Homo sapiens: one gene and its partners. The protein of the gene in region 4 purifies or fractionates together with the protein of the main gene of each other region. This does not show direct contact. Each region holds a gene or a part of one and is shown on either strand. Other genes may lie near its edges.

Region 1 (7,021 bases), on a different chromosome or scaffold from region 4:
ATAAGGACACAGTTTTACCTCTGGAAAATGCTTACTAAAATCTGTTTCAAAAGACCAGACATGTACAGCAAGCACAATACTGTCAGTTATTGTTCACCACTTATATACTGCATCATAAATACCAGGTATAAATACCTGCCGCTAAAGGGTCACTAGAAATACAGGTAGAAGCATGTTATCACTTTACACTAATTTTACTCATTAGGTATAATTTGTAAAAATAGGTCACCACCCCACCATACAATCAAGAAAGAGGAAAAGAAAAGTTGCTATTCTACAAAAGTGCTCCTTTTAGCTTTCAACCCCAATAGCTTAATTTTGGGTAAAACAAGATTGTAAGGTATGGCCATCAGTTCTAAATAAGCTGATGATGCCATATATACATCCTCATATATATATATGTTTAAATTTCAGTTCTGGTTTAACACTAATGTACTAGTACAAACCATTTATAGGAAACATTCTATCGGCCTTATTTACAAACACACAATGAATGACAAAGATATGGAAAATTTTAAAAATTGCAGATAAATGTAGTCATAGTTTACTAAAGATAAGACAAATTTGCATAACTTTTTTTAAAACCAAAGAAAAATGTTTAGAAAGAAACCCCTACCATATACAGAATACCTATTGGTCATCGGACCTAAGAGGCAAATCAACGTAAGGATCGTGATAAAATTTTTATTACTGTTTCTTTTAATAACATATCAATGAGATCTATTTAGAGTACTACCTACAAATACACATTCTCTCATGATTCAGTGAGAATATTAAGTTATTGAATACATTTTTTTACTCTCATGGCACTTACATTTGGTAACACTAATAAGGTAAATTTAGATAACACTTAAATCATGATTATGAATGTTTAATTGAATATTTTCCTTTCTGTAGCTGTGAAATGTAAAGCTTAGATTTGCTTCCATCAGGCCTCTTAAACCAAACTTCATCATGGTTAATTGTTGTAATTACAGCACTAAAAAGAAAAAAAAAAGAATGAATGAATGAATTACAATGTCTCCTCAATTCACTTTAGATTATTACCTATATAAAACCAAAATAAACTGGCCTACAACAGTAGACTCAGGTATATAATTGTCATTTACCAGAATGCTGCATATCAGCAGTACATGCTGCCAAAAATATCACATTCAGCAACACAGCAGATCATCCTTCTTTTCTTAATAGAGTTCGTAAAATTTACTTTCTATTAGAACTATTAAAAGCACATTCTTCCTACTCCATCCCCACCCCACCTCTTTAAAAAAAAAAAAAAAAACTGGAGCTAAAAGCGCTATGTATATGGTATTATACTTGTAACTCATGTCAGTATCTTTCAAATGCTAATCTCTAATTCCTAATGTCAAACCATCTACGGTACTTATACCAATTTTTTTTACACTACTAATCTTTACATAAAAAGATCTATTCTTTAAATAGATTTGTATTTTATTCTTTTTTTAATTATTTATTTTTTGTTTATTTATTTTGAGACAGAGTCTCACTCTGTCGCCGAGGCTGGAATGCAGTGGCGCAATCTCAGTTCACTGCAATCTCCACCTCCCCGGTTCAAGTGATTCTCCTGCCTCAGTCTCCCAAGTAGCTGAGACTACAAGCACGTGCCACCATGCCTGGCTAATTTTTGTATTTTTACTAGAGACGGGGTTTCACAATATTGGCCAGGCTGGTCTTGAACTCCCGACCTTGTGATCCACCCTCCTCGACTTCCCAAAGTGTTGGGATTACAGGTGTGAGCCACTGCACCCGGCCTAATTATTTATTTTTTAAAGAGTGAATAGGAATTTTTTTTTTTTGAGACTGGGTTTCTCTGTCACCCAGGTTAAAATGCAGGGCCACAATCAGGGCTCAACCTCTCAGGCTCAAGTGATCTTCTCATCTCAACCTGAGTAGTTGGGACTAAGGATAATTTTTTTACTTTGTAGAGATGGGGTTCTCTACAAAGAGACCAGCTAGGGCTGGTCTCAAACTCCTTGGCTCAAGTGATTCTCCTGCCTTGGCCTTCCCAAGTACTGGAATTACTACAGGAAAGATCTATTGTACCTGGCCTCATCTCTTTTTAAACAACTTTTATGCTAAGTAGTAGTAAAATATCTCAAAAACAATAACATAAACAGAAGAATCCAGGAGTATCATATATAAACTAGTAGTTCAATGAGCTTCTATAAGAAAAGTTATTATACACAATGTTCCTGGAATCCTAAAAATTTAAAGACAAAATTATCTTACAATTAAAACCACTGTATTTGGAAAATGCATACTGTAGACTAAACTCAAGTTGTTTTATTTACCACTGACACCTACAAAACCATATTTTGTTACCACAGAAGTTTACTACTCTGAGAATTAAATCCTACACTACTGGAGAATGAAAGATGATTAACAATATTTTCAAAAGGTCACAACCAGATAAAACTTAGAAGGCTATACAAATAGTTATATAAACTTTATTTAAGCCTAGACATATTACTAGGACTTTTAAAAGGCAGTTTTCAAGTTACACTGTGTTGTTGTTGTTGTTTGTTGTTGTTGTTGTTAGAGAGACAAGGTCTCACTCTGTTGCCCAGCCTGGAGTACAATGGTGTGGTGAAATGATACCTTGCTGCAGCCTCAAACTCTTGGGCTCAAGCGATCCTCCTGCCCAAGCAGCTAGGACTATAAGCACACACCTCCACACCTGGCTAATTTTTTTATTTTTTGTAGAGACAGGGTCTTGCCAAGTTGTCCAAGCTAGTCTTGAACTCCTGGCCTCACCCAATCCTGCCTCAGCTTCCCAAAGTGCTGGAATTACAGATGTCAGCCACTGCACCCAGCCCTAGATTATACTTTAATTACTATTAATCTTAAGGGTTTTATTAATTTTCCATTTATTTCCTACTCTAATTGATACAAATTCTTTTTATCTAAAATATTGTAACACATCCAAAAAAGTTAAAGATTATTAGGTCCACCAAAAATTCATAATAGTCAGGTTTAAGGGTCATTATAGCACGATCCTAACGATTCACCTACTAAAAGAATTAAGAAACAGGATCAGCTACCTGGCTAAATAATTTCAACATTTCTACTTGCATTAAAGTTTGTGTTCATAAACTTAATATGAAGTCTGGTTCATACATATTAACACTGCTGTACACACATGTAATCAAGCCATATGTCAAGTGAAAAAAGGATCCACAAGCAACTAATGATATAGGCACACTATGGAGGCAGGAAATATTTCACTGACAACGATGTTGTAAATGACAATACTGAGCAACACTGAAATAACAAAGGCTTTTTTACCTTGTAGGACATTCATCTTTTTTATCAATACATATTGTTTGTCCACGTATATACCATTCACCATCATAATATAGTCTTCCCTCTTCAGATCTAGCACTGTGCAGATGTTTTTCCAGTTTCACAGGTGCTAAAGGGATCAGTTCAAAAACTGTTATATTAATAAAACACTGTCAGAAGAACAAAGGGTCAGAACATTAACAATTAACATCAATCCATGCATATGTAAAAAAGGCCTAAAAATATTTCTTAAATAACAAACCTAAAATGTAATAAAAAGATTTATTCCTTACATTCTTTTACATAATCACTAAGTTTTTAATATAACTACTAAACAAAGCTAAACAATGAACAATAAATCATCAATTGACTAATTAAGTACCAGAAGGGGAAGCAGGTATGTTATCAATTACTAGTGTGAATTTTAAGTAGTATTTAAAATATCAATTGCCATATTTCAATTGAAAATTATACTTTTTATTTTTTCCCCTGCGGGCATCTGATATACCGAAAGAAGCAGAGTTTAATACATGTTCCAAGCATTCCCCAGGCTTTTAATTCTAAAAAGGAAATGTCCTAAGTACAACTTCTATTTTTAAATTCCAGAAATCATCTGGCATTAGTCAGATAACTCATACAGGAAAAAAAAATCTTTTTTATGGAAACACAGTGTCAAAAGCATACCATGAAGTCATTCAAATGTCAGCTCCTGAGAGGTCTTCCCTAACTACTCTACCCACTCCTCAGCTAATTGTTATATCAACTGCACAGTTCTTTTAGAGTAATTATTATAATCTGTAACTATCTTCTTAACTGTTTATCTACATATATATGATTCCACCTCCCCTAAAGAGGCTCCAGGAGATCCATATTTCTTTTACCATTGTATTCTCAGGGCCTAAAATACCATCGGGTATATTCATTCATTCATTCATTCATTCATTCAACAAATGTTGTCTGAACACTTCCTATACACAAGGAAGTATGCTGGGGAAAAAACTGTGACCAAAAGAGATATGGTTCTAGCCTTTGTGGAGCTTACAATCCAGTCAGGAGATAGACAAAATTAAAAAGTACAAATTGAGTGAAGTGCTATGAGTAAAACTAATAGGATACAATGCTGAAGATAAGAGTGGGAGGGAGACACACTCAACTATGATAATGAGATTCTCAAAAGGAATCTATTACCCAAAAATGTTAAGAACCACTGCTCTACAGGTCTAGGCAGCTGCTCTGGCAGTTAATTCCCCAGGGCAAATACTGCTGCAATTTCCTCACAAAATAAAAAGTTTAAAGGAATCATGGGGTTAAAAATAAAATGCAATTTTTTTTTTCTTAGAGATGGAATCCTGCTCTGTTGCCCAGTGTAGTGGTGTGATCATGGCTCACTGGAGCCTCGACCTCCAGGGCTCAGGTGATCCTCCCACCTCAGCCTCCCAAGAGGCTGAGACTACAAGTACACACCGCCAAGCCTGGCTAATTTTTGTATTTTTTTGTAGAGATGGGGTCTTGCCATCTTGCCCAGGCAGATCTCAAACTCCTGGGCTCAAGTGATCCTCCTGCCTTAGCGTCCCAAATTGCTGGGATCATGCTAGGCATGAGCCACCATGCCCAGCCTAAACAGAAATTGGTCTCTTATCGATTACTTAAGCTGTTTAAATGTGACTAGAAATTCCTTTCCTAAGTATTTCAAATATGTTTTTCTTTTTAGTCTAGCTTCATTGTCCTTAGAAGGATTAGGAAATCTCACCTATAGTGAAAGAAGGCAGAAACAGAGAAACTTATCCTAAACACCATCACATTTTGGCAGTGATTTTAGACTTCCAAAAAAAAAATCAAGGAAGTGTAACTTGATATGAATTTTACTAAGGCATATCAGCATTCTGATCTCTCTCCTCAGAAAATGCACATGCAGAATTTTGCACATAATTTCAGAGGATTCACAGAATCTCTGAAGCCAATCCACAAATTCCAAATACCTCCCCTATAGAATGACAGAGCCCATAAAAAACACTGCATAAATACTTTTTTGAGTTACTGATCCATTATTAGCAATAAGAATGTAGCTGAACACTGAAATAATTATACCACATTCAGAAATTTTGAAACTTTTACGTGAAGCAATGACTCCAGAAGAATTCCTCATAATTTCAGGCACGGTGTTCACTGATGAAATAAAACCACTGATTCAAGAGTTCTTTAGTACGTAGATAACAACCCTGATTCAACAAGTCTCCAAAGAGAATATTTCCCAACTCAGACTAAATGACTTACGTTCCGTTTTCACTCTGTGTGGCCCCAATGTAGCCATTGCCTTAATTAAAAAAAAAAAAAAAGAGGAAGAAAGAAGTCTGAGTTCAGACTGAAAATATATTTTGGTATCTATTTAATATATACAATATTACCGATTAACTCCATAACAAAGACAGTAAAGTATAACCATTAGCTGCTCTAACAAATTTTTAATGTCTAAGACCATAAAGAATATGAGGGATAACAATTTCTCCTAGAGGTGTTTTCAATACCTGAAATAATCTCTAATTCTCAACTAAGAAATTTACAAAAATGAAAAAATGTAATATGGAAAACAAGCCTCCACTTTCAGGCAAGAAAAGAAAAGCCTATGATTCTTGAATGTTTAATGATAGGATGCAAGACACATAAGGGTTCAAATGTTCTTTTGTTCAACAAATATTTATCAAGTGTTTTCTATAAGCCAGGACCAGCCAAAGGACTAGGCACAGATGGTGATGTTATTATTTTTGGGCAGACTAAATAAATGTTTTTTGGACTTTTCCATAAATTATTAGTTACATTATTATAGAAAAAATACAATCAAACTGCTGACATGTCTCTAACTCTTAAAATATCCTTGTAGTTCACTGCTATCTGTAATAGTATTAAATTGCCTTAGAAAAATGTTGCAAAAGCAAAGCATATTTACAATAATATTTTGATGTACTAACAAAAAAAACATAGAATCTTAAAAAGTAGACTATAAAAACATACTTGTGTTCCACTGCTCATTAATCATACCTTCCTAATTGTTGTCCAGTCTTCAAGAATATCAAGATCTTGTAGCATATAAACTATATATGGACGTTGAATAGTCAAGGTCAATTTAGCTGTAAGAATATCACACTTTGAATTATATTTCCAAAGTACTACATTTCAGAAAATGGAACGATGATTTATGAGCATAATGCTTTGGCATCCTAAATTCTGACTTCAAATTATTCTTCAAACCACTTAGTACCAGCATAAATACAGTCTAGTACTTCTGATGTCATAACTACATGCCCTTAATTCCATGATATCATTGATTGTAATATACATCACTAACACAATCACTGGTTTTTAAGGTGGAGGGGAAAAGATGGGGGTAGAGGGATGGTACCATAGAGAATGCCGAAACTGAATATACGTATTAATTTACACTCCAATTTTGGAAACATTTAAAAATGTTTTTAAAAAGTATACGAGGCTAGGCACAGTGGCTCATGCCTGCAATCCTAGCACTTTGGGAGGCCAATGCAGGCTTAAGCCCAGGAGTTCAAGACCAGCCTGGGCAACACGGCAAAACCCCATCTCTACAAAAAATACAAAAATTAGCCAGGCGAGTGGCACGTGCCTGTAGTCCCAGCTACTTGGGAGGCTAAGGTGGGAGGATCACCTGAGCCCGAGAGGTTGAGGCTAAGGTGAGCCATGATTGTGCCAC
Region 2 (7,998 bases), on a different chromosome or scaffold from region 4:
GTATCATTTACCATAAGGAACACCAGAATCCAGTGGTGAAGAAAAAGGAATAGAAAAGCATTTATTTCACTTTGCAATGTCATATATTTACTTAATACATAGAGAAAAAGAGTATTTGAAGGAATTCCTCAACTTCAGCACTGCTGACTGGACTGGATACTTCTCTGTTGTGGGGGGCTTCCCATTACCTTGCAGGATGTTAAGCAGTATCCCTGGCCTCTACCTATCAGATGCCAATAGTACTCTTTAGTTGTGACAACCAAACTGTCTTTAGATATTGCCAAGTACTCCCCTGGAGGAAAAATCACCTCCCCAAACACCTGTCACTGAGAACCACTAATTTCTACCACTCAAAGGGTATAAGACTAAAAACCAAGTTTTATCTATGTGTATACAATCAGCCCTCTGTATCCATGGGTTCCCTGATGTGAATTCAACCAACTTTGGATGTTAAATATTCAGGGGGGGAAAAAAACCCTGCTTGCATCTGTACTAAGCACATACAGACTTTTTTCTCTTGTCATTATTCCCTTAGCAATACAGTATAACAACTATTTACATACCATTTACATTGTAGGAGGTATTACAAGTAATCTAGAGATGATTTAAAATATACTGGAGGATAGGTATAGGTAATATGCAAACACTATACCATTTTACATCAGAAAGTGGAGCATCATGGATTTTGGTATCTAAGGTGGGTCCTGGAAACAATCCCCCACAGACACCATAGGGAAACCGCATATCCTTTGTTTTCCACTTCTTTTCCTAGATAATAAACCCCTAAAAGACAAGATCTGTTCCTTAAACACCTCTGGGCTCCCTCACAGCACTAATGCTATACTCCTGGACATTAATTAAACAAGAATATATTAATGCATTTCAAAAACAGTTCTTACAGGCACGCTTTGCTATAAGTTGCATGTGTACTCTATGTGAATGAAGTGGTTAAAACAGGAAGGAAAAAAAGCCTTGTTTAAATTAGAATAGTAATATACCCTTTCTTCAAATTCAAGAAACAAGAATTTACTAAAATCCTAGAAGAATCTGCTAATTTTTAAGTTAGAAAACTGGTAATATTCTTAAAGTAGGAAAAAATATATTAGAATATTACATATCTCACCTGTAGCAGCTGGGTTTATCAATCCAGCAGAACCACTGTTTGCAATCTGAGAAGGGGCCTGGCTCAGCCCGGTAGAAGGGGCTCCTAACCGAGGAAACTGTTGAGAACTCATTTCCACCTGTAGTACATACAGTTATATGGTTATTACTAGATTCTGAGATCTGAATCAATACTGAGAAATTAAAGCATCTTTAGTACCTATGAGATAGTCCCTTGGAAAAGCAAATGCTGCATCATTTATTTAAAAACAATAACTTGGGATCAATATAAATGCAGACATTATCTAAACTACCTAAGTTTTCTACAAATATTGTTTATACGGAGCTGGCGGGTACTATGACCCTCCATAAATACTTGTGGATTGCTATGCTAAAAAAATCACCATTGAATCCTGTACAAGAGTCACATGACAGGTATTACCACAATGCATGTGTATTTCTCTGTGTAAAGTTTTATGGAAAATGGCATGTCTCTTTGAAACACTCAAATCTCACACCAAGGTGAACAGAACTGTGATTAGTATGTCATAGGAACATTCGGAGGAAGATATCCAGCCCTAAGAAAAGATCCGATATCTTACATCCAGACCCGATGCAAAAGGAATTCTCCAATGCTTTTCGGCAAAGGCCTCCATTTACGGATTTCCTTTTCCTTCTCTTCCACAGATCCCCTCACAGAGCCAGAGGACCCTACACCTTCTCCATCTTCCCTAAAATCGCCCCCCACTTTTCCCTCAGGAGCCAAGCGATCTCCCGATTCGCCCGCAACCCCACCCCACCGCGAAGCCCCCGCTGAGACCGGAGGACGCCGGTTTCCAGACACCTCGGAGTGTGAGACCCCCGTCTCCGGGGTGGGGGTGCGGACGGGCGATCTGGGGACCCGACCACAAGACGAGCACTGTGCCTCTTTACCTGTAGCCGCCGCCCGCCGCCCGCACCGCCCGCTTCTATCTCGCCGGCCTGGGGGTGCCGCGGAGGGCCCATCTCGGCGGCGGCGATGTGCTCGGCGGGCGCGGGGAGGGATCGCGGCGGCGGCGCCCGGGGCCCGCTGCTGTCCAGCCCCGCTGGCCCCACTCACCCCCGCCACCCGGCCGCCGCTGTGCTCGCAGTCCTCTTCCCCCGAACCTGCCCCTGCCTCCCCCGCCCGCCCATTGGCCCCACGCCCGACGCGTCAGTGGAGGCCCAGGACCAATCCACAGCGACCTGCACGTTCAGAGCCCGCCCCACCCTCCCGCCGACTGCCAGCCAATCAGGCGCGAGCCTGGCCGGGGCAGCCCAAACCCCTCGAGGCTGAGCCAATGGCAGAGGAAGACAGGCGCCCCCGGCGAAGGGGGCGGGGAGCGGGGAGGCCCCGCCTCAGCCAGGGTCTGAAAGCGGCGGGCGCAGGGCCCGGATGTGGAGAGTCACTTTAAACTGCTCCAGGAGCCAAACTCCCTGGGCCGGCCGCCCGCCCGCCCGCCCGCCCGCGCTCCCCCGGCCGCTCTGCTTCCCCGCCAAGGCCCACGTCCGCCACGCCCCCACGCCCGGGTCAGCCCACCCCTCCCGGTGCCTCTCCCTTCCTCGCCACAGGACACCCAGCCCCTGTCGCCGGCCCAACCGCCGTGACCAGCTCGCGAAAGAGCCGCGGTCCGAGCCGCAGGAGACGAGGATCCTCTGCCCTTCCCCGGGGACGCGCAACGGGACGGACGCTGCAGCCCGGCTCAGCCGCCCCGCCCCCTCGTCTCCTCCCCTTCCCTCCCGGGCGCCCGTCCCGCCATTACCTGGGTGCTGCGCCCAGTGGCCGCCGCGCCGCCTTGAGCTCGCTCCCGCGCGCTCTCCGTCTGTGGGGCCGACGTCCCCAGGCTCCGGACCCGCAGCCACCGCCGGGGAGCTAGCACTCTGCCCCCCACCCCTCACTCCAGCGCCGCTGCTTCCGCCGCCGTAACGAGCCTCCCGTCTATTGGCTGGCGCAGGCCCCGCCCCCTGCCGAGTCAGCCAGTCGCCGGTGGTCGTGAGCGGGAGAGCGGACGGGCCCGCCCCTCTGAGCCGCGGCGTCCTGTGGGAAATGTAGTCGCCGGAGTCAGGAGGGCGGGCCGCGAAGGAGGTGGAGAGCGCCGGGGCGGGGCCGCAGGCGACCCGGCCAGGGCAACACACCCCTTTGCTGTCTGAAGTCGGTTCTGCCTTTTCTCTTGGCTAAGTGAGAAGACAGTGGATCCCACCCTATGCCTTAACCTGAGGGCACTGGGTTTCATTTTCCCCGCGGGGAGGCGCGGCGCGGGAAAGGGTAATGGAGGCCAACTGCGGCGGCCAAGGGATCCGCGGGCCGGGCCAGTGTCGTGACGGTGCCCGCCTCCCTATGCCGCGAGTGGGACTCGGTGTCCCCACCGGGAACCGCGGTCGGCACAGCCTACGCGCGGCGGGAGCCGCCAGGCGCAGCGCGGGCGCGGCTCTGTGAAAGCAGGCCGGCAGGGCGCAGGGCTCTGGGCGGCCGGGGCGCACCTGCGCGCGCTTTCCGGATTATAAAGGAGCTGAAGGGGGCAGTTTTATTTTGTCATTTTGCTTGGGGTTCAGGGTTGGAGTTTATGCACCTGTAGAAGACTTAGCCATATCTTTTGAGGCCACATTTGTGTCTGATAAGAGATTAAGTCTCCCTCTTCCCTTACCAGATGGTAATTTAGGCCTGGAGTTTTGTGATTAGTTAGGAAATAAATGGGGCTCAAACCCCCCTCTTCCTATCATGCACAGCTGTGTAAGACAACTGCTTGGTTAGAAGAGAGTAGCTCCTGGCTATAGCCCAGGGATGAGTCTCAGATACTCCTCCTCTTCAAGCCACTTTCCTTTTCCACCTTCATGCCTTCATTCTCAAACTTCTAAAGAGTGACTCCTGTGATAGACTTCAGCCTCCTCTCTGCCTAGGCAGTCCTTATCCCTTTTGGAGTTGCCACTCTTCTCAGACTGCTCCCCAAAAGTTGCCAACACCTACTCAACTTCAAACCCATCGGTCCTCACTTAGATCTCATCTTGTTTAGCTTACTGACCAGTAGTAATTCCTCCTCATGTCTTCCCTTGGCCTCTAGAACCAGGCTGTCTCCTGCTTCTACTCCTATGTCAAGCTCCATTATACCTCCTCTTTCTCATAAATACAGCATTCTTCAGGGCTCCAACACGCTAATGCTATACTGCCTTCCTAAATGGTTTAATGTATTTCCACAGTTTCAAATGTCATCCTTTTTGTTTTTTGTTTTTTTGAGACAGGTTCTCAGTTCAGCCCAAGCTGAAGTCCAGTGGCGTGATCACAGCTCATTGCAGCCTCGACTTCCTTGTCTCAACTAACTTATTGCCTCAGCCTCCTGAGTAGCCAGGACTGCAGGCGCATGCCACCACACCCCACTAAACATATATATATGCCAGGCACGTGGCTCATGCCTGTAATCCCAGCACTTTGGGAGGCCGAGGCAGGCGAATCACCTGAGGTCAGGAGTTCGAGACCAGCCTGACCAACATGGGAAAGACCCCATCTCTACTAAAGATACAAAATTAGCCGGGAATGGTGGCAAATTCCTGTAATCCCAGCTACTCAGGAGGCTAAGGCAGGAAAATTGCTTGAACCCGGGAGGCAGAAGTTGCTGTGAGCCCAGATCAAGCCATTGCACTCCAGCCTGGGCAACAAGAGCGAAACTCTGTCTCAAAAATATATATTTATATATGAATACATATATTTTATATATATAATATATATTTTTGAGATGGAGTTGTATGTATATATATGTATATATGTATATATATGTATATATACGTGTGTGTGTGTGTGTGTGTGTGTGTGTGTATATATATATTTTTTTTTTTTTGAATAGAGACAGGGTTCCACCATATGCCCAGGCTGGTCTTGAACTCCTGGGCTTAAGCGATCTGCCCACCTCAGCCTCCCAATGTGCTGGCATTATAGGCATGAGCCACTACACCCAGCCTCAAATATCTTTGAAAATGTTACCTATGCATAGGTGACCTCTCCGAGTTGTATACCTATATTTCCGCCTGATGGGCCAATCCACACAGAAGTCTTAACAAGCCCCTCAAAGTTAATGTATTGAACACCTTTATTGGTTTGCCTCCCCTGTGTACTCCCCTTGATACCTGGGTTTACTTACTGGCATCACCATCCTTTCTGTCTTCAGCTTCATATATGTTCCACACTCTTCCATCTCCCACAGCCGCCATATTACATTGATATGCACCTCTGCCTCCTTTTCTATTGTTTCCATAGCTGTGGCTCAAGCTGCCATTATTTCTTATCTGAATTGCAGCAATGCTGCTGCCCCCACTGAAATCTCTTCCTACACCCACTATGTCCTCCAGAATTCTTTTTCTAAATCACTAATCTGGATCTATCCTTCCCATCCACGATGTTTCCATATCTTCGGAATATATTCCAAATCCCTATGCCCATTATCCAAAGGCCTTAATAATTTAGTCTCTCCTGCCTCTCCAGACACTGGATACTCTGCCAACAACAGTTTCTACTAGTTATCTGCGCAGTTTGGCTTCCAGCATTTTGCTCTGGCCTGAAGTGCCTTCTAATAGGCTAGGATGCTCAGCAATCATCTAGAAGAGTTCTGCCAATTCTATAATGCCTAACCGGAAATAAAACTGTTTCTCTTCGGCAAGAAGCCTTCCTCCAATTCCTCTCTTTTCCCCACCCTCTAGAATATTTCCATAGAACTTCCTCAGTACCTCTCTTACAGCACTGATCTGTGTCTGCCCATATTCCTCCTGGAGTAGGCAAACAGAGAAATTATTTGTCTTTATATCTCCTGTCAACAGGGTTTTAGATCCAGGAAGCATTCAATAAATGTTTGCTAAATATAATCACAAACACATCGGCGTTACTATATGATTGAAATTGGAGTTTTCCTGAGTTACTTGGGACAGTAGCTATGGCTTTATTCATCCATGTCTCTGGTCCTGCACATAGTGGACACTTAAAGGAAAACAGGTGCTTCACCCATCTTTTATCACTAGGGTTTAGAATTCCCATCAACTGAACTTGGTGTGCAGAAAACACACCTTGTGCCCCAGCCAGACTGAACCTTCTACACTCCTCAAGTATTCAAGCCCTATGCCAGTTTCAGGAGCTTACTAGTATTTGAGGTTCTTGAAAATTGGCCAGGCGCGGTGGCTCACACCTGTAATCCCAGCACTTTGGGAGGCTAAGGCGGACAGATCACTTGAGGTCAGGAGTTCGAGACCAGCCTAGCCAACATGGTGAAACTCCATCTCTACTAAAAGTACAAAAAGTACAAAAATTAATCCCAGCTACATGGGAGGTTGAGGCAGGAGAATCATTTGAACTTGGGAGGTGGAGGTTGCAGTGAACCAAGGTTGCACCACTACACTGCAGCCTGGGCGACAAAGCAAGTCTCAAAAAATAAAAAAATTAAAAAAAAGTGTTGTCCACCCATGATCTTTTGAATAGATTAAGCAGATATACAATAGGCATCATATCTGCTCGGTGATTTTCTAGAGAAAAGCAGATTCTCCACGTGAGTGTTCTGTGGAAGTCAGTCAGATGTCAGCGAATGGTCCCTGAGACTTGGTGATGTGATTGAAACCACTTTTGCAAAATCGTGACAGTGAGAGATATCTAACATAGTTGACTCCATCCTACTTCTGACCTCCACGCTGTCTTTGGTTATTCCTGGGTATAGACTCAGCTATGTTTCACAATTTATAGTTTAACTTGAAAGCAAGGATGATAATAGTCCCTTTCTAAAACTAACCCCCTCCTTGCTTGGGGACCAAAACCACCTTTGTAAACCAACGAAAGACCACAAGAATAGGATTATGAGAGGGGCCTGAACTCTGCTAAAAAGTAGTCAGTTTCTATAATCCTTTACTGCTCAGGAGTCATGTGGCCAGAGGTCTCAGATTTATGACTTCCCCAGTTGCTCCTATAGATAACATCACTGTTGTAAAGATTTTTTTTTGAGATATCTTTCATACTGATCCGATCTGAACTCGTGACTCATGGCTCTACTGGTCCTGTGGCCCTACCTAGAGGCAGACTCAGCACACGAGGAATGTCTTCCACACCCCTATGGTTTCATCCCCAACCAATCAGTAGCACTCATTCCCTATCCCCCTGCTTACCAAATTGTTCATAAAAACCCTAAGCTCTGAGCCTTCAGGGAGACTGGTTTGAGTGATAACTCTAATTCTTCCCTGTTGCCCACCTCCTGTCAATTAAACACTTTCTCTGCTGCAATGCCACGGTCTCAGTGGATTGATTTTGTCTGTACAGTGGACAGGAAGAACCCACTGGGTGATCCAACACTTTGTTGCATTTTTTTCTCTTAAAGAAATTTTTTTTTAAGAATTCCAGGGCAAACTGGTGGTAGTAGCCTGCAACTTTTTATTGAATAGTACTGCTCCTTGTGGAGCAGGGCTAACTCATAGGCAGTATGCCCAGTCAGCCAGGTAATTACACTTTGGTGGGCCTCTTTACCATCGGACCCAGACGGTTCTCACTTAGTCACTGCGTGAGCAGTCTAACGATACTGACTCTCTGCAGTTGCCCTCTGTCCAAATACTCCCCTTGACTCAACCTCCCAGTCAAGGAAAGCCTAGTTTCTTCCAGGTCACTTGTGTAACATGAGCATAACCTTATTTATCTCCAGCTTGTTGTGTAGATTAAATGAGCCATACACATAAAGGATGTGTTGCTTTTGAGCTTGCCTGTATCCATCGTTTTTACAACTTCCATCTGTTTATTACCCTGGGCAAACTCAAGAATCTCTCTCTTCCTGGTATCACATTCTATACCACTGTCCCCACCCCAGCAGCACCTATGCCAGGTGTGGCAGGAGACTCTAGGATGGTCCCGCGTGATCTCTTCCCAGT
Region 3 (7,021 bases), on a different chromosome or scaffold from region 4:
ACCTGAGATAAACATGGAACCATATGGAATTTCTGCTTTATCTATGGGTCATAGGACCGTAAGAGAATTAATTTAACTCAGAGGATTTCCTCTGACAGGTATCAGAATCATGGAGATCAGGATCAAAGTAATGATGTGTGATAAGCAAAAAGTCCTCAAATGGTTTTAACATAATTTTCTCCAGGAGGACATAACACAGATTAGGGATCGGTACTCTGAGCATTAGGTGTTTTGCCACTTTTTAAGTTCTTTGCTTTTATCTTCTCTTTCCTTGCAATACTCTTGTCTTCTGCCTTTCTTTGCCTGATTGTTCCTATTTTATTTAAAATTTTAATTTTTGTTTATTCAAGTATCATGACAACCTCTGGGGCTCAAGCGACCCTCCTGCCTCAGCCTTCCAAGTAGCTAAGACATGCCACTGTACCCAGCTAATTTTTAAATTTTTTGTAGAGATGGGATTTCACTACGTTGCCCAGGCTGGTCTCAAACACCTGGACTCAAGTGATCTTCCTGCTCCAGCCTCCCAAAGTGCTGGAATTATAAGCGTGAGCCCCATGCCCAGGCAACAAATTCTTACATGTATGCTACAAATCACTCAAATCTCAATTTAATAACTCATTATAAAAACATAAGCAAATAAAAATGGGGAAAAGACTATAATAAGCTGGGCATGTTGGCTCATGCCTATAATCTCAGCACTTTGGGAGGCCAAAGCAAAAGGATTGCTTTAGAACAGGGGTTCCAGACCAGCCTGAGCCACATAGTGAGAATATGCCTCTACAAAAAAAACTAAAAAATTAGCTGGGTGTGGTGGCAGGCACTGTGGTACCAGCTACTCGGGAGGCTGAGGTGGGAGTCGCTTGAGCCCAAGAGTCTGAGGCTGCAGTAAGCCGTGATCATGCCACTGCACTCCAGTCTGGGTGCCAGAGCCTGTACCCCCCAACAACAAAAAAGACGGTAATAAAAAAATCTTTTTGGCTGGGCGCTGTGGCTCATGCCTGTAATTCCAGCACTTTGGGAGGACGAGGTGGGCAGATTACTTGGGATCAGGAGTTGGAGACCAGCCTGGTCAACATGGTGAAACCCTATCTCTACTAAAAATACAAAAATTAGCCAGGCATGGTGGCGGGCACCTGTAATCCCAGCTACCCGGGAGGCTGAGGCAGGAAAATGGCTTGAACCCGGGAGGCGGAGGCTGCAGTGAGCCAAGACTGTGCCATTGCACTCCAGCCTGGGCAACAAGAGTGAAACTCTGTCTCAACAAAAAGAAAATCTTTTTAATTGTCTGAAATGTATGTCACCTTTAGGAAACTGACCCCAGAGCAAGTGGTGGGTTCTTTGAAGAAATTTTAATTTGCTAATTTGTTCTTTTCTTCTTTTGATATTCAAAAGTTCTGTAAAGACTTCTTGCTATTTACAGTTTTTAAAAGAAAAGGATGAACATGAGAAGTCTGATCTCTTTCCATTTGCTCCATCCTGTTCCTATTTCTAGGAATTAAAAACTGCTGGACTTGGAGCACAATGGTCAAGGCCACACATGACACGTCACTCTACCACAAAGTCATCCACTAAATCTCTACTAGAGGCAGAAAACTTCTCTCAACATGATCAACCCTATCAGGTAATTTACCTTTTATTTGGTTTTTAAGAGACATCCCTTCTGGAGCTTTCCCCTCCTGTTCCATCCTACTCCTGGAATAGTTGCTTTCTAGGTCTGCTATGCAGTGGTCATCCTAGAGCTTCCATTCACCATCACCTTCAGATATTCCTTCACTATTTTCCTATGTAGGATTCCTTGTTTGCCAGTCCCATGTCTTCTTAGCTTGGCTTCTAGTTTCTAGTACTACCATTGAGAAATCGGATGTAAGACTCTTGATGCTGTTCTGAGATCCATTTCTTTTTATATATGTATCTTTATATGGTAAATTTTTAGAATCTACTTTTTTTTTTTTTTTTTTGAGACAGACTCTCACTCTGTCACCCAGGCTGGAGTGCACTGGCGCGATCTCGGTGCTCACTTCCGGGTTCAAGTGATCCTCAAGCCTCAGCCTCCTGAGTGGCTGGGATTACAGGCATCTGCCACCATGCGCAGCTGACTTTTGTAGTTTTAGTAGAGACAGGGTTTTGTCATGTTGGCCAGGTTGGTCTTAAACTCCTGGCCTCCAGTGATCTGCCTGCCTCTGCCTCCCAAAATGCTGGGATTACAGGCGTGAGCCGCTGTGCCAGGCCTAGAATCTACTCTTTATCCACAGGATTCTGAAATTTCATATGCTTTGGTGATTTTCACCCCCATTATTTATAGAGGGCACAGTGAGTCCTTTTCTAACTCATATCCTTCAGTTCTAGAATTTTAAAAATATCTTTGATGACAACTTCCTCTTGTTTATTCAACTCTCCTTCTAGAAATCCTATGATTCAGAAGTTGGATCTCCTCGCCAGATTCCATATTTCTCTTATTTCTTCTCTCCTATTGTCTTTTTGACCCTCTAGTGGAATTTCTTCAGCTTCACTGCCTTATTATTTTTTTTAAATTCCTGCTATCATATTTTAAAGATATCCTTCTTGTTCTCTGAATTTTTAAAATAGTTATTATGCTTTTGTTTCAAGGTGGCAATCTCTTTCCCTTTATCTCTGGATACAAATTGAACATCCCTAATCCAAAAATCCAAAATCTGAAACTTTTGAGCACCAACGTGGTGCCACAAGTGGAAAATTCCACACATAAGCACTTACCACAAACTTTGTTTCATGCACAAAATTATTTATATAAAATTACCTTCAGGCTATGTGTATAAAGTGTCTATGAAACATAAATGAATTTTGTGTTTAGACTTGGGTCCCATCACCAAGATATTTCATTATGTACAAATATTCCAAAATCTGAAAAAAATAAAAAACCCAAACACTTCTAGACCCAAGCATTTCAAATAAAGGATACTCAACTTGGATTAACTATTAAGAATAGTTTTGTCCTATTTTTTTTTTAATATGGTACATTATCTGTTTTTTTTCTTCCAGTTCCTTTTTATTCTCCTTTTTCTACTTTGGCTTCTGCCTTTATGTAGGGGCTTTCCTCAAATGTCTGGTCATGTGGCTTCCATATTTAACATTAAAAAGCTGACTGAAAGCTGTATATGAGCATCAGGGCTTTTAAATACAGAAAATGCACATGTAGTGATTGGCAAGGATCTTGATTTTTGTTTCAGGAACATCCAAATAGTAGGTAATTTTTCTTGGGCTGGTCATTTTCTTTAGAAGAATCTTCCAATCTCCTCCCAGGAATAAGCATAAGCTTGGCTGCCAGCTTTCAGGAAGCCAAGAGGATTAGGCCTTGAGTTAGAAGAGGGACAGCAATCTAACTATTCAGTATGCAAACTTTCACTCCATCCATTATTTTGGTTTAGCACTTAATCATTACCCTCAGCTGTGGCTGGTGCCCCCAAGTCTACAGGCCTACTGATTTCCTCATTCTCTTTTAAGTTAATCTATTTTCTGCTTGAGTTGGGGGTGAGGTAGACTTGCTTCACAGATGGGAAGAAGAGATCCAATTTCTCTTTCCATTTTCAACCAATCCCATTTTTCAGCATCGTCCCATATCCCTTCTGAAAGCTTTTCTGGGGTTACATGGTATTAATTGGCTTGCTTCTTGTTGTTTTGTCCCACTACAAGGACAAGCAAGCTTAGTTTCAGCATTATCTCATCTGCTGGGACAGTTACAGTAGTCCATCTGTTATGCAGCTTCCAAAAGATATACTGTTGACATTTCTTGTCTGTTGTGGTCATTCTCTTGTCCTTTTGAGTTTAGGGCTTTTAATTTCCTTTACTGTTATTTTAGCAGGGCTTAGGGATGGACTGTAGATGGACATGTTCATGTTTAACTGGAAGTCAATCCTACAACCCCCGAAGGGCTAGCTCAGACACTACTCCCTCTCTCTGACTACTCCAAAGTAACCTCTCCTTCCACTAACTCTTGTACTCGTTAATATCATTCTCAGGGTACACACTGTTCCACTAGATGTTAAGATCTTTGAGAAGAAAGTCTGTATCTAACTCATTTCTGTACTTCCGCCACCTGGCAGAGTGCCTGGCACATGGCATGTGCTCTTTAAAGTTGCTGAGCTGCACTATCTTATATTTTAGTTGCTTAGGAAATGATTTATAATCCCAACAAGATAATCTCCTTGAGAATAAGCCTTATGTCTCATTCATTTTGGTGAACCCCATAACAAATACAGTGCCTGTTAATAGATGCCAATAAATGTTTGAGCAAAGAGTGAATTTCAGAAGGACTATGCTCTACCTGAGAATCCATCACATTTAGTACAATCACCCATTTTGGAAAACAGTTCATACTCCCTTTTAAGGGTGTCATTCTGATTAACTCAGTTGCTGACCTACTCATTTCAACAATAGAAAACACTAGGAATTTAAAAACAGCAATTAATGAATGTGTACTATATTCAAAGAGTATCAAATTTAAATCTTCTAAAATGATAGGATATAGTTTTGAAATATAAGGGGAGAAAAATCATAATAAAATTACCTTCCCTGTCTTTCTTTTTTAATCTTTTTCTCCTCCTGTCTATGGTTGCAACTTCAGACTTCAAAGACATATAATATTTTCTGATTTCCTGTAGTTTTTCTTGGAGAAATGAGATTCTCTCTGTACTGTTCATATTATCTAATTCATCTAAAAGGGGGGAAAGAAGTTAATTTGGATTTTAAAATAATTCTGTGAGAAAAATGATGACAATTCTATCAAACGTCTAACTCATAAATCAACAAAAGCTTTAGTTTATTAAAATCTCCTACAGTAAGCTGAATAAGACTGAAAACAAGGAAGTCGTGAATTAAATTCATGATTAAGAATTATTTTTAGATCCCAAATTTTCTATACTAAACATTTATTACTTAAATGATCAGAAAAACATAAGAAAACATCAACACAAACTAACCCTGACCTATCTATAATTATAGTTATCAGAATAGTTTCCCTGTATTGACATTTTCTTCACTACTACTAGTTACATAATAGAAATAACTACTGGCTATTTCTAATTGTTAGTGCTACAAAGGGCACTTCAATTTCACTGATTTATATAAATCATACATGGCTTCTTAATGGAGACCTTCCTGTAAGTCAATATTTATCAAGTCAGTTTTATGAAAAGACACAGATTTATACTTAAGACAACATGTGGTGATTCTTGCTAAGGCAATATTTGGAATATCTAAATAGTTAATCATTATTCCTTATTTTATTAACATTAATCCAAGTTGATATTTTAAGATCTATTCCACTTTACAGTATTCATCTATCAAGTTTTCTATAAGCTTCTTACTGAGCTGAAAGCTCCATTTATATGTCCTAGGGGATGAATTCGGATGTTTTTCTCTGTGTTTATCTTTCTCTCCATCTTTGATGTGCGGGGATATTCTTGCAGGAGATCGTGCAAGTTTCTGTGGCTTAGATACATTAAGATGCTTTACTGGGGTACATTTACTTGAATTGTCTAGGACAGGAAGATCTTCACTATCACTGCTTTGTCCTATAAATAATAAAAAAGATTGACTCAGATTATAAATAAAATTCTTAAATATCAAAATGCAACAGACCTAACAATTACATTTCTTGGTATCCTACAGAAATAAGTGCACAAATGCACAAAGTTTATAACAATATAAAAACAACAAAAAAACAAAAAAACCTAAATGCTCACCAACGGGGAAATGGTTAAAAATGATAAACTATTGAATACTTTCCTAAAGTTGTTAAAAAGAATGAGCTAGAGTTCCTAAGAATAAAAATGGCAAAATATCTAGTATAATACTGTTAAATGAAAATGCAGTTATAAAACAATATAGTATTGCTCCATTTATGTTTAAAACAAGCCAACAAACTGCTAAAAATACTAACACTATACAAAAGCTAGCATTGAAAGACACCAACCTGTTCCATTCTTTTCATTTTTGGCTGCAGCACTTGTTCGCTTTGGGGTACGCTTTTGCTTTTTTGCCATTAATCCACTATTTCCATCACTTGGCCTCTTCTGACCTGAAATAAGGGGAAAGAGAGAATGTTGAAAAAAAAAAAAAAAAAAAAAAGAGCAAGTATATTATTCAACAGACTACACTGACATTTCTTTCTTTTTAATAAGAAAAGAAGAGAGAAAAGAAAAAGAAAGTACTTTACAGATCAACAGTACCTGAAACTCAACAGTTTTGATTTTTGGTTTCATATAAACACTTACTTTTCCCTAGAAAGTCCTTACCCTTCTCTCTGCTCTCTCTCTCTTGTACAATTATACTACAGGTACCAGAGGCAACATTAGTTTCAAATCCATTTGCCGATTCCCTCTCACAGAGACCTTCTTGAGATTCTTCAGCAATACTATCAACTTCAATCGTTATATCACTCTCACTTTTTACGCTTCGAGACTCATCTTGACTAAGAGTAAGTGGTGAAGCTACTGAAAAGTTATGTTGGACTACAGGAGGTAGGGCAGGTGGAATAGAAACAAGAGAGTTAGACTCAGAGCTTTCAACTGCTACATCCTCAATGCTGGTCTTATCCTTTTCATCCAAATCATCCAAATCTACTTCATGGCAAACCAAGGTTTCAGGCCCGATCAGAGGCATTGCATCCTCATCTTCTTTTAGTGGAATATTTACAGTTTCTTCAGCTGGACTATCAAATCTTTCACTAGTCAGTTGTTGGATGCATTGGTTTGACTCTGCTATCAATGATGGCATTCCTTCATTTTCTCTTTCAAAGTGCTGTTCAAAATTTAAGTTTTTCATTCCCTCAGATCCAATACAATCACTGGTCCTTTCTTGAGATACAGTATTTGTCATTTCCATTCCATTCTCAATTCTTATTTTTTTCTCTGGCGATGATTGTCCTAGTATTTTCCGTTTCAACTTCTTTTCTTTCACACATTGGTCAATTTCATCTTCTGTAGCAGAAGAAAAGTTTTTATTGTCTAATGAAGACAATTCAAGACTATGAGCTTCTATATGA
Region 4 (7,905 bases):
TTCACTACAATCCCAGTCATTCACACGGTCCCTTCGTTAAAACGTTTTAGGATCATATTTTGCTTTTAGTAGTCATCCTAAATGCTGAATAGTACTATAATCTAAAGCAGTAGGATTGACTGTATACACCAGTTAAATCTGTGCAGTCTAACACATAAACTCCAAGTACAGGGTGATATTGCTCAGATTTCTAATATTCCTTCTACAGAATCTGATATTTTCTTAACTTTGTCCTTTTTTTTTTTTTTTTTTTTTTTTAAATGAGACAGAGTTTTGCTCTTGCTGCCCAGGCTGGAGAGTGCAATGGCACCATCTTGGCTCACTGCAATCTCTGCCTTCCGGGTTCAAGCGATTCTCCTGTCTCAGCCTCTGAGTATCTGGGATTACAGGCACATGCCACCACGCCCGGCTAATTTTTGTATTTTTAGTAGAGATGGGGTTTCATCATATTGGTCAGGCTGGTCTCGAACTCCTGGCCTCAGGTGATCTGCCCACCTCGTGGCAAAGTGCTGGGATTACAGGCATGAGCCACCACACCTGGCCTAACTTTGTACTTCAATCCTAGCCAAAGTGTTTTCTTAAAGCAAAAGAACTGCTAAAATGGAATTACATCTTGGAGTATATTTAGATATTGAGAAGAGTTATCTCCAGTTTGTAGTGACTTTTATATATCTTTTTATTTCTATTTAAATTTTTTCTACAATAATGTGTATTACTTATGTAATAAAGTAATAAAAAATGCTTTAATGCTTTAAAACTGAGTTCAGTGGAGACGCACACCATTAGGTTTTGTTTTTTTTTTTTCTTTGAGACGGAGTCTCGCTTTGTCGCCCAGGCTGGAGTGCAGTGGCATGATCTCCGCTCACTGCAACCTCCGCCTCCCGGGTTCATGCCATTCTCCTGCCTCAGCCTCCCCAGTAGCTGGGACTACAGGTGCCCGCCACTACGCCCAGCTGATTTTTTGCATTTTTAGTAGAGACGGGGTTTCACCGTGTTAGCCAGGATGGTCTTGATCTCCTGACCTCGTGATCCGCCCGCCTCGGCCTCCCAAAGTGCTGGGATTACAGGACTATTAGGTTTTTCTTTAGTTGCTTTTTGTACTAATGAATTGATTTAAAGTTTTAGGGTTTTTCACTATAATTTAAGATGCTTCACTGGACCTTCTAGAACAAATTACACTCTAACACAGCCTCCTAGATTACTAAGGATTTATTTATTTGCATCAGGTACAATTACATTTCTTACAACACGCTATCAATTGGTGACTTTTCATATGAGGATTTCTTCTTGAATTTCTCCATATTTAAAGCAGTGATTTTAAACTACTTAAATATCTTCCTCAGAAAAACATTGCTCTCTGCTTCACTGAATTAAACAGGGAATTAACTGCCTCTTACTGGTTTGGAAAAGACCTCAGTAACCAAATAAAATGCATGGGATTTGCTGGATCCTGTTAAACCAAATGTGAAAGATTTACTGAGACAATAGGAAAATTTGAATTGTGTAGTTATTAAATGATAGTAAGAAAATTTGGGGAGGCAGAATACATGGTATTACGGATATGCTTAAAAAACTGTTATCTTGGCCAGGCATGGTGGCTCACGTCTGTAATCCCAGCACTTTGGCAGGCCAAGGCGGGCGGATCTCTGGAGGTCAGGAGTTCCACACCAGCTTTAACCAACATGGTGAAACCCCCTCTCTACTAAAAATACAAAAATTAGCTGGGCATGGTGACACATACCTGTAATCTCAGCTACTTGGGAGGCTGAAGCAGGAGAATCGCTTGAACCTGGGAGGCGGAGGTTGCAAAGAGCCAAGATCGCCCCATTGCACTCCAGCCTGGGCGACAAAAGCAAGTCTCAGTCTCAAAAACAAACAAACAAAAAACAACTATTATATTTTACCTATTCATATTATTCATATTTAAAGTATTTACAGATAAAATGATAAAAATCCAGCAAGAGTGAGGGAATGTGAAGGGCTATAGATTAAATAATCTTAGCCATATGTTGCTAAATGTTGAAGCTGGGTAGACGGTATATAAGGATTTATTGTAGTATTACTTTTGCCTTTGAAAATTTCCATAAAAGTTTAAAAATATTAAAAAGTAGAAAAAAGAAAAGGATTTCATTTATTTGATCTGACTCAAACAGAAGCTGAATTTTCTCAGCAGGCATCTTTAGGAATCTTTCACCATTACTTGCCAGTTTGTTTTCAACCAGTTTGAAGTTGTTGCTCTCCCCAAGAGACAGGTACGGAGGCGTACACATTTCCTGCCAGGGACCTCTTAAAGTCAGACTTAGAAATTCAAGGTAATCCCAGACTAATTTGGGGAGATCAGTTACTTATCTTTTTTTTAGGGTTGCTTTATGGTAGATAATACACTGTAGAGCAAATAAAATGCCTTTTTGCTTTATTCACAGGATTAAATACCATAAATTAATTTCTAGTTGCTGAGAACGGGAGATTTTAAATTTTGCATTTAGAAGACAAGAAATTCAATCTGAAGAGGCCCCATATTTCCAGTTAAGTGACCACTCAGAAGGGAAGGACAGCGCTCAATAACCAAGGTCAAGAGTTGGGTTTAGGGTTTGTGGCGATTTTTTTTGGGGGTGGCAAGAATAAGCCGTAGATTAATCTCTTAAAATAAATATAGCAAGAAAAGCATGCCTAAAATAATTCATACATATACATATATTATCATATTACAGTGTTTTACAGTTTTAGATCAGTACCAGCTAAAATATTCTTTGGATTGTTTTTGCTTTTTTACCAGCCTGTTCAACAGAATTATAAAAGGTGACAATAATGCTATAAATGTCTCCTATCCCATGCTCATCCCTCCTCTCATCTTGCTCTGTTTCTGGAGTACTCTAGGTATTCTGCATCTTTGCCTTTTTCCCCTTCTAGTTTCTAAACACATTTCTTATCTACTTGCAGATCACTTATCAGACTGAATAAAATCCATAGGTACATTCGGTGTCTGACCTGTAACAAGGCACCCCACATTATTTTGCGCCTTTGATAAAGACCAGCTTATTCAAACTTGTGAGAAAACAAAAATAGCAGGGTTCAAGTAAAAACCAGTAAAATTCAGTTCTTCACAGTGGCGGTTTTTTGACAAGACCCGGCCGAAAGATTTCACGAACAGTAAAATCCCAGAATGTTCTCAGAAATACTATCCACTGTACTGTCTGGGTTGCTTAATACTGGCCCAAACCTCAGTGTCCTAGGATAATAACCCAAGACAATTTCCCAGTCCTTTGAAATAGTTGACGTCCCAAGATGTCAAATTGCCTGGAGTGCTTTATTTTGGTTTGAAATTTAAAATTTCCTCTAGATAAAGATCTAGATTTCTCTTTGCAAGTCAAAGGCTAGTTACTATTAACAGCTGTTTCAAAAGTGCTCTAAATAGGTCACCATTCAGGTGTACCAACGCTGCAAACTGGATCTAAGAAGATCCAAATTTGTCACCACTCACTCACATTTTAACTCAAAGGTAGTACTCACAATTGGCCTTGTTTACATAGGCATTCCATTAAAATTATCCATGCATTCATTCTATTTGCACCCATTTCTTTCAAAAATGTCCATCTGTAATTAAAATCAGCTCCTCTGCCTGACATCTCATTTACACTACACCGAAATTAAACCCCACTAGGAGATCACGTAGATTATGGGGCCGAGGGCCCGCCCGCTGACTAGGTTTTCACTCGCGTCTCCTCCATGCCCCAGGTCCCCTCCGATTGCAGTCCTGGGGCAGGACTGAGCAAAAAGTCCCGTAAAGCTGGCGTGTGCCCCACTCCGCCAGGAAGCCTCACCGACGTCCTGTGCTTAAATGTTCTGACACCCCCCAAAAGCAGTTGTTTTTAAAGGCTGTCTGTGGGACCAATGCGTTGTCAAACAGATGCCGTCCCGCATCCCCTCCCCCTAAATGACACAGAAGATTCCAGCGTAGGGGAAGGGCCACGAAACCCGCAGGGCACACGACGCCGGGGGCCGGAGGGAGCACCGCCTACCTCCCTGATCAAGCCCCGCGGTGCCGGGCGAGCCCGAGGGCCCGGCAGGAGGCGGGCGGCAGCCCCAGGCGAGCTCGGAGGCGGCGGGAACGCAGCCGCCGCGCATGCCGGGAGCCGCACGCCGCCCGCCGGGGCGCGCAGTCCCGCAGGCCTCGCTCCAGGTCGTCCGAAAAGGAACCGCCTGCTGCTCCTTTGCAGGCTCGCGAGGAGCCGCACTCGGACCGCCTGATGGGGAAAAAGCCGGTGTGGCCGGGCGGAGCGAGCCGAGCGGAGCTGGAGCTGCCCCTCCCAGCGGGGAGGACGGCACGAAGGACCGAGCCGCCTCCCCTCCCGGGTCCCATTCAGACGCGAGGCGCAGAGACTGGCTCCCCGGGCTTCCCCTTTAAGGGGGGCGGGGCGCGGCCTGCCGTTTGGCCGCCCCCCACACCCTCCCCCGCTAGCCCAGAGCCGGCAGACCAATCGCCCGGGCGGCGGAGCGAAGGCGGGAGAATGCGAACCCTCCGGTAGGCGGTAGGGGCGGGCCCCGGCCTTATTCGCAGGGAGCGCTGCGCAGGCGCAGAGGCGGCCGCGGGCGGAGGGGCGGGGGCAGGCTAGCGGGAGGCTCTCCGTGAGGCACGGAGGGTGACTGGGGACAGGCGGGCGGCGACGGGCTTGTCATGGGGATCCGGGCTGCGAGACGGCACTCGTAGCATCTGGGGACTCCGAGGGGGACAGGAAGTGTCAGCGCCCGGGACCCCGGCGCCGGCCCCGCCGAGGGGATCCCCACTGCTCCGGTCCTGGAGCGGGAGGGGAGAAAGGAGGGAGCCCCGGTTTCGCCCCGCCCCTGGGCTGGTGCTGCGGGGGCGGGGAGTGAGGGCTGCTCTGGGGGGAGTGGAGATCGGGGAGCGCGGCCGTGCCCTCTCGAGCGGCTGCGGGGTCCCCGCGGCGCCGGGCTGCTGAGCTGAGGGCCCGCGGCGGCCGCGGCCGGTGCATGTGCGGCTGCTGGATGCGGAGGCGGCGGCGACGGCGCGGATCGGCAGGATGTTAGGGCAGCAGCAGCAGCAACTGTACTCGTCGGCCGCGCTCCTGACCGGGGAGCGGAGCCGGCTGCTCACCTGCTACGTGCAGGACTACCTTGAGTGCGTGGAGTCGCTGCCCCACGACATGCAGAGGAACGTGTCTGTGCTGCGAGAGCTGGACAACAAATATCAAGGTAGGAGCCGCGGGGCTGCCGGCCTCGGGAGCCGGTGGCGGGGAGCCTGTCCGGGGGAGTGCCACCTTCCCTTTCTCCCGTGACAGTCTCCCCGAGCGCACCGAGGGTCTGCCGAGCGGGACTGGGAGGACTGGAGACCGGGTTGGCGGCCCTCCGTGGCCCCGCGGTGGGCGAGTACTTCTCTGGGGTCCCCAGAGTGGGGGTGGGGGCCGCTTGTCAGCCCCCGCTGCAGACCCAGCGGCTGCAGCTGCCGCTGAGGGGAATCAGCCATTTTAAGCAGCAAGCATTTGTTCAGGCGCTGGCCCGCCCCGTGCCGCAGACCCTGCGGCCCCGGCCCGGGACTGCAGCCGGGCAAGGGTCGGAGGGAGTGAGCGGCCGGGCTCCCGCTGGTCTGCGGGGCGCGCTTCCCCACCTCACTCGCCCCCACCCCGGAGTGCGGGTGCTTTGGAACGTGCGGGGGGAGGGGGCGAGAGGCCGCGGAGGCGGACTGAGGGGGCCTTCCTCCGCGCTCCTGCCCCGGCCCGGAGGAGAGCAGTCCGTTCCGCTCTCTCGCCCCGGGAAAGTTCGCGGGCGCCCCGCGTTGTAGCCCTAGCCCAGTTCTTTCGGCAAAATGGTTAAGAGGGGAGGGGTCCCCCGCGGGAGAGGAAGAGAGGGGCGTGTGTGGCGGGGAGGGCCCCCGCGCCGGGGGCGGGGCCTGCGGGCTTGACGAGGGGCGTGGGAGGGGCGCGGCGCGCGTTCCCGCGGGCCTGGAAAATGGCTGGTCGCGAGAGGGGCGGTGGCGAGCTGGCTGCTGGGGAGGGAGTCGGGGCTGTGCGGGGGCGTTGGTTCGGCCCCAGCGGAGTCCGAATCGGGGTTTGCAGCATGTTTTGCGGTGATGTTTCCAACCTCTTTCCCAGTCAATGGATCAGGACGGCGATCAGCAGCTCGGACCGTCGCGGATCCTGGCTCCGCGTAGGTTCCGGGACATGTGTCACTTCCGGGCTTCAGGAGGAAGTGGGTTGGTTGACTGGGCAACCGCCTGGCGTCCCCGAGCCCCTCCTTCTCCGACTTTAAGTGTGGAGGCGAAACCACCCTTTGCCGGCCGACCCGGGAACCCGGGACAGAATCGACCTTCCTTACAGTGTTACCACCTACTATCGGTGGTGCTACTAGGAGGGCAGTTTAAAAGGGGAAATGTGTTGCGCTTAATAACCTTGAATCGAGGAACAGACCTTGAACATAGTATGGAAACAGCCATACGAACTTTAAAGATAATTTCCTGGACCCATTCTCTGTTTTTGTAGACACGCCAGTAATCCTATACTTTAAAAGTCTCTAAGGAATCCACTTCTTGGGTGACATAAGTGTCTGATGTTTTTTAGTTTATAAATTTGTTTCTGTTTTCTGAATCCATAGGATTCATAGGACTGATCCGTGTTTGGGGAGGGGGTGGGGAGGGAATTAAAACTGATGCGCTGGGTCCAGACCATTATATAAATATTTCTTTTACAGATTACAAAGAGTTCAAGTAACTCGTCCAGTTAATTCGATGTAGAATATTTGGCTCCAGAGCCTGCTACTGTAGATGCATATCTTTGTTTTCAAACAATTTAAGTTTTAATAAAAACTGTCCAAGGGGATTTCTACAGATATGGAGCACAAACATGAATGGTAACCTAAAAATGATACGTGCTTAATAATTGTATATGGAACCTTTCTAGTTTTTCAGATAACACCAAAGTTTGTAAAGCTTGTAGTTTGTGTTGTTGTTTTAGACAGAGCCTTGCTCTGTCCCCTAGGCTGGAGTGCAGTGGCTCGATCTTAGCTCCCTGCAACCTCTGCCTCCCGGGTTCAAGCGATTCTCCTGCCTCAGCCTCCCGAGTAGCTGGGATTACAGGCAACTGCCATCACGCCGGGCTAAGTTTTGTATTTTTAGTAGAGACGGAGTTTCACCATGTTGGCCAGGATGGTCTTGAACTCCTGACCTCAGGGGACCCGCCCGCCTCGGCCTCCGAAAGTGCTGGGATTACAGGCGTGAGCCACCGCGCCCAGCAAGCTTGCAGGTTTTTACATTTCTTTGAAGGCACATGTTTCCTTTCACAAGAGTTAAGCTATTTGAAGTTGGTGAGGGATACTATAATTTGTTGACAGGGAAATCTTTCGGATCATCTATAATTGTCAGGTATTAATAGCTCTGGTAACATTAGTAATATAGTAGGCCTTACAAGATTGAGAGATTATACAAATTCTTAGCTCTATGAAGTTTGTGATTAGTGATTAAAAACTCATCTAGTTTTCACTCTGCACGTGGTTACTGAGCTCAACTTTCACAGTTTTATGTTTATGTATATTTTGGGTTCAGATTTCATGTTTTTTATATCTTCACTAGTGCTTAAGTATTTTCTGGTTTTGGATCTAATATTTCTAGCAATATTTAGTGATATAAATTATATAGGCAGTCAAATTTCTTTCTAACCTACTTGAGACACTTTCAGAACTGCTGAAAAACTTATAAAATGAGAAATAAAGAAGAAAACAATTTCACAATTGAAGTACTTATTATGGGATAGGGTTATTAGAGAACCTTTATTTTTATTCTAGTGTTCCCACTCATAATTTCTTAGATAAATAACAACCTTCAAACTAAACTTTGATACTTAATTTCAAGTGCCTTTCATATAGTTTATAGAAAGTGCTTACACTGCGAGGTCAGAC

What was found.
Region 1: the proteins of ING2 (region 4) and BRMS1L purify together in Homo sapiens (affinity purification with mass spectrometry; 3 studies listed by BioGRID and IntAct, with this or other methods). This does not show direct contact.
Region 2: the proteins of ING2 (region 4) and SAP130 purify together in Homo sapiens (affinity purification with mass spectrometry; 3 studies listed by BioGRID and IntAct, with this or other methods). This does not show direct contact.
Region 3: the proteins of ING2 (region 4) and ARID4A purify together in Homo sapiens (affinity purification with mass spectrometry; 3 studies listed by BioGRID and IntAct, with this or other methods). This does not show direct contact.

Annotation. Positions count from the first base shown.
Region 1 is NC_000014.9:35,864,318-35,871,338, reverse strand, and holds part of BRMS1L (breast cancer metastasis-suppressor 1-like protein), read right to left. Parts: intron 6,405-7,021; coding exon 6,340-6,404; intron 5,618-6,339; coding exon 5,578-5,617; intron 3,455-5,577; coding exon of another isoform or gene 3,434-3,454; coding exon 3,307-3,433; intron 980-3,306; coding exon 862-979; 3' UTR 1-861. UniProt on the Homo sapiens protein: Involved in the histone deacetylase (HDAC1)-dependent transcriptional repression activity. When overexpressed in lung cancer cell line that lacks p53/TP53 expression, inhibits cell growth.
Region 2 is NC_000002.12:128,025,058-128,033,055, forward strand, and holds the start of SAP130 (histone deacetylase complex subunit SAP130), read right to left. Parts: upstream 3,003-7,998; 5' UTR 2,883-3,002; intron 2,250-2,882; exon of another isoform or gene 2,107-2,249; coding exon of another isoform or gene 2,035-2,106; intron 1,242-2,034; coding exon of another isoform or gene 1,236-1,241; coding exon 1,124-1,235; intron 1-1,123. UniProt on the Homo sapiens protein: Acts as a transcriptional repressor. May function in the assembly and/or enzymatic activity of the mSin3A corepressor complex or in mediating interactions between the complex and other regulatory complexes.
Region 3 is NC_000014.9:58,364,552-58,371,572, reverse strand, and holds part of ARID4A (AT-rich interactive domain-containing protein 4A), read right to left. Parts: coding exon 6,273-7,021; intron 6,056-6,272; coding exon 5,951-6,055; intron 5,550-5,950; coding exon 5,343-5,549; intron 4,691-5,342; coding exon 4,544-4,690; intron 1,551-4,543; exon of another isoform or gene 1,493-1,550; intron 1-1,492.
Region 4 is NC_000004.12:183,500,157-183,508,061, forward strand, and holds the start of ING2 (inhibitor of growth protein 2), read left to right. Parts: upstream 1-4,901; 5' UTR 4,902-5,039; coding exon 5,040-5,211; intron 5,212-5,941; exon of another isoform or gene 5,942-6,110; coding exon of another isoform or gene 6,111-6,162; intron 6,163-6,694; exon of another isoform or gene 6,695-6,854; coding exon of another isoform or gene 6,855-6,861; intron 6,862-7,905. UniProt on the Homo sapiens protein: Seems to be involved in p53/TP53 activation and p53/TP53-dependent apoptotic pathways, probably by enhancing acetylation of p53/TP53. Component of a mSin3A-like corepressor complex, which is probably involved in deacetylation of nucleosomal histones.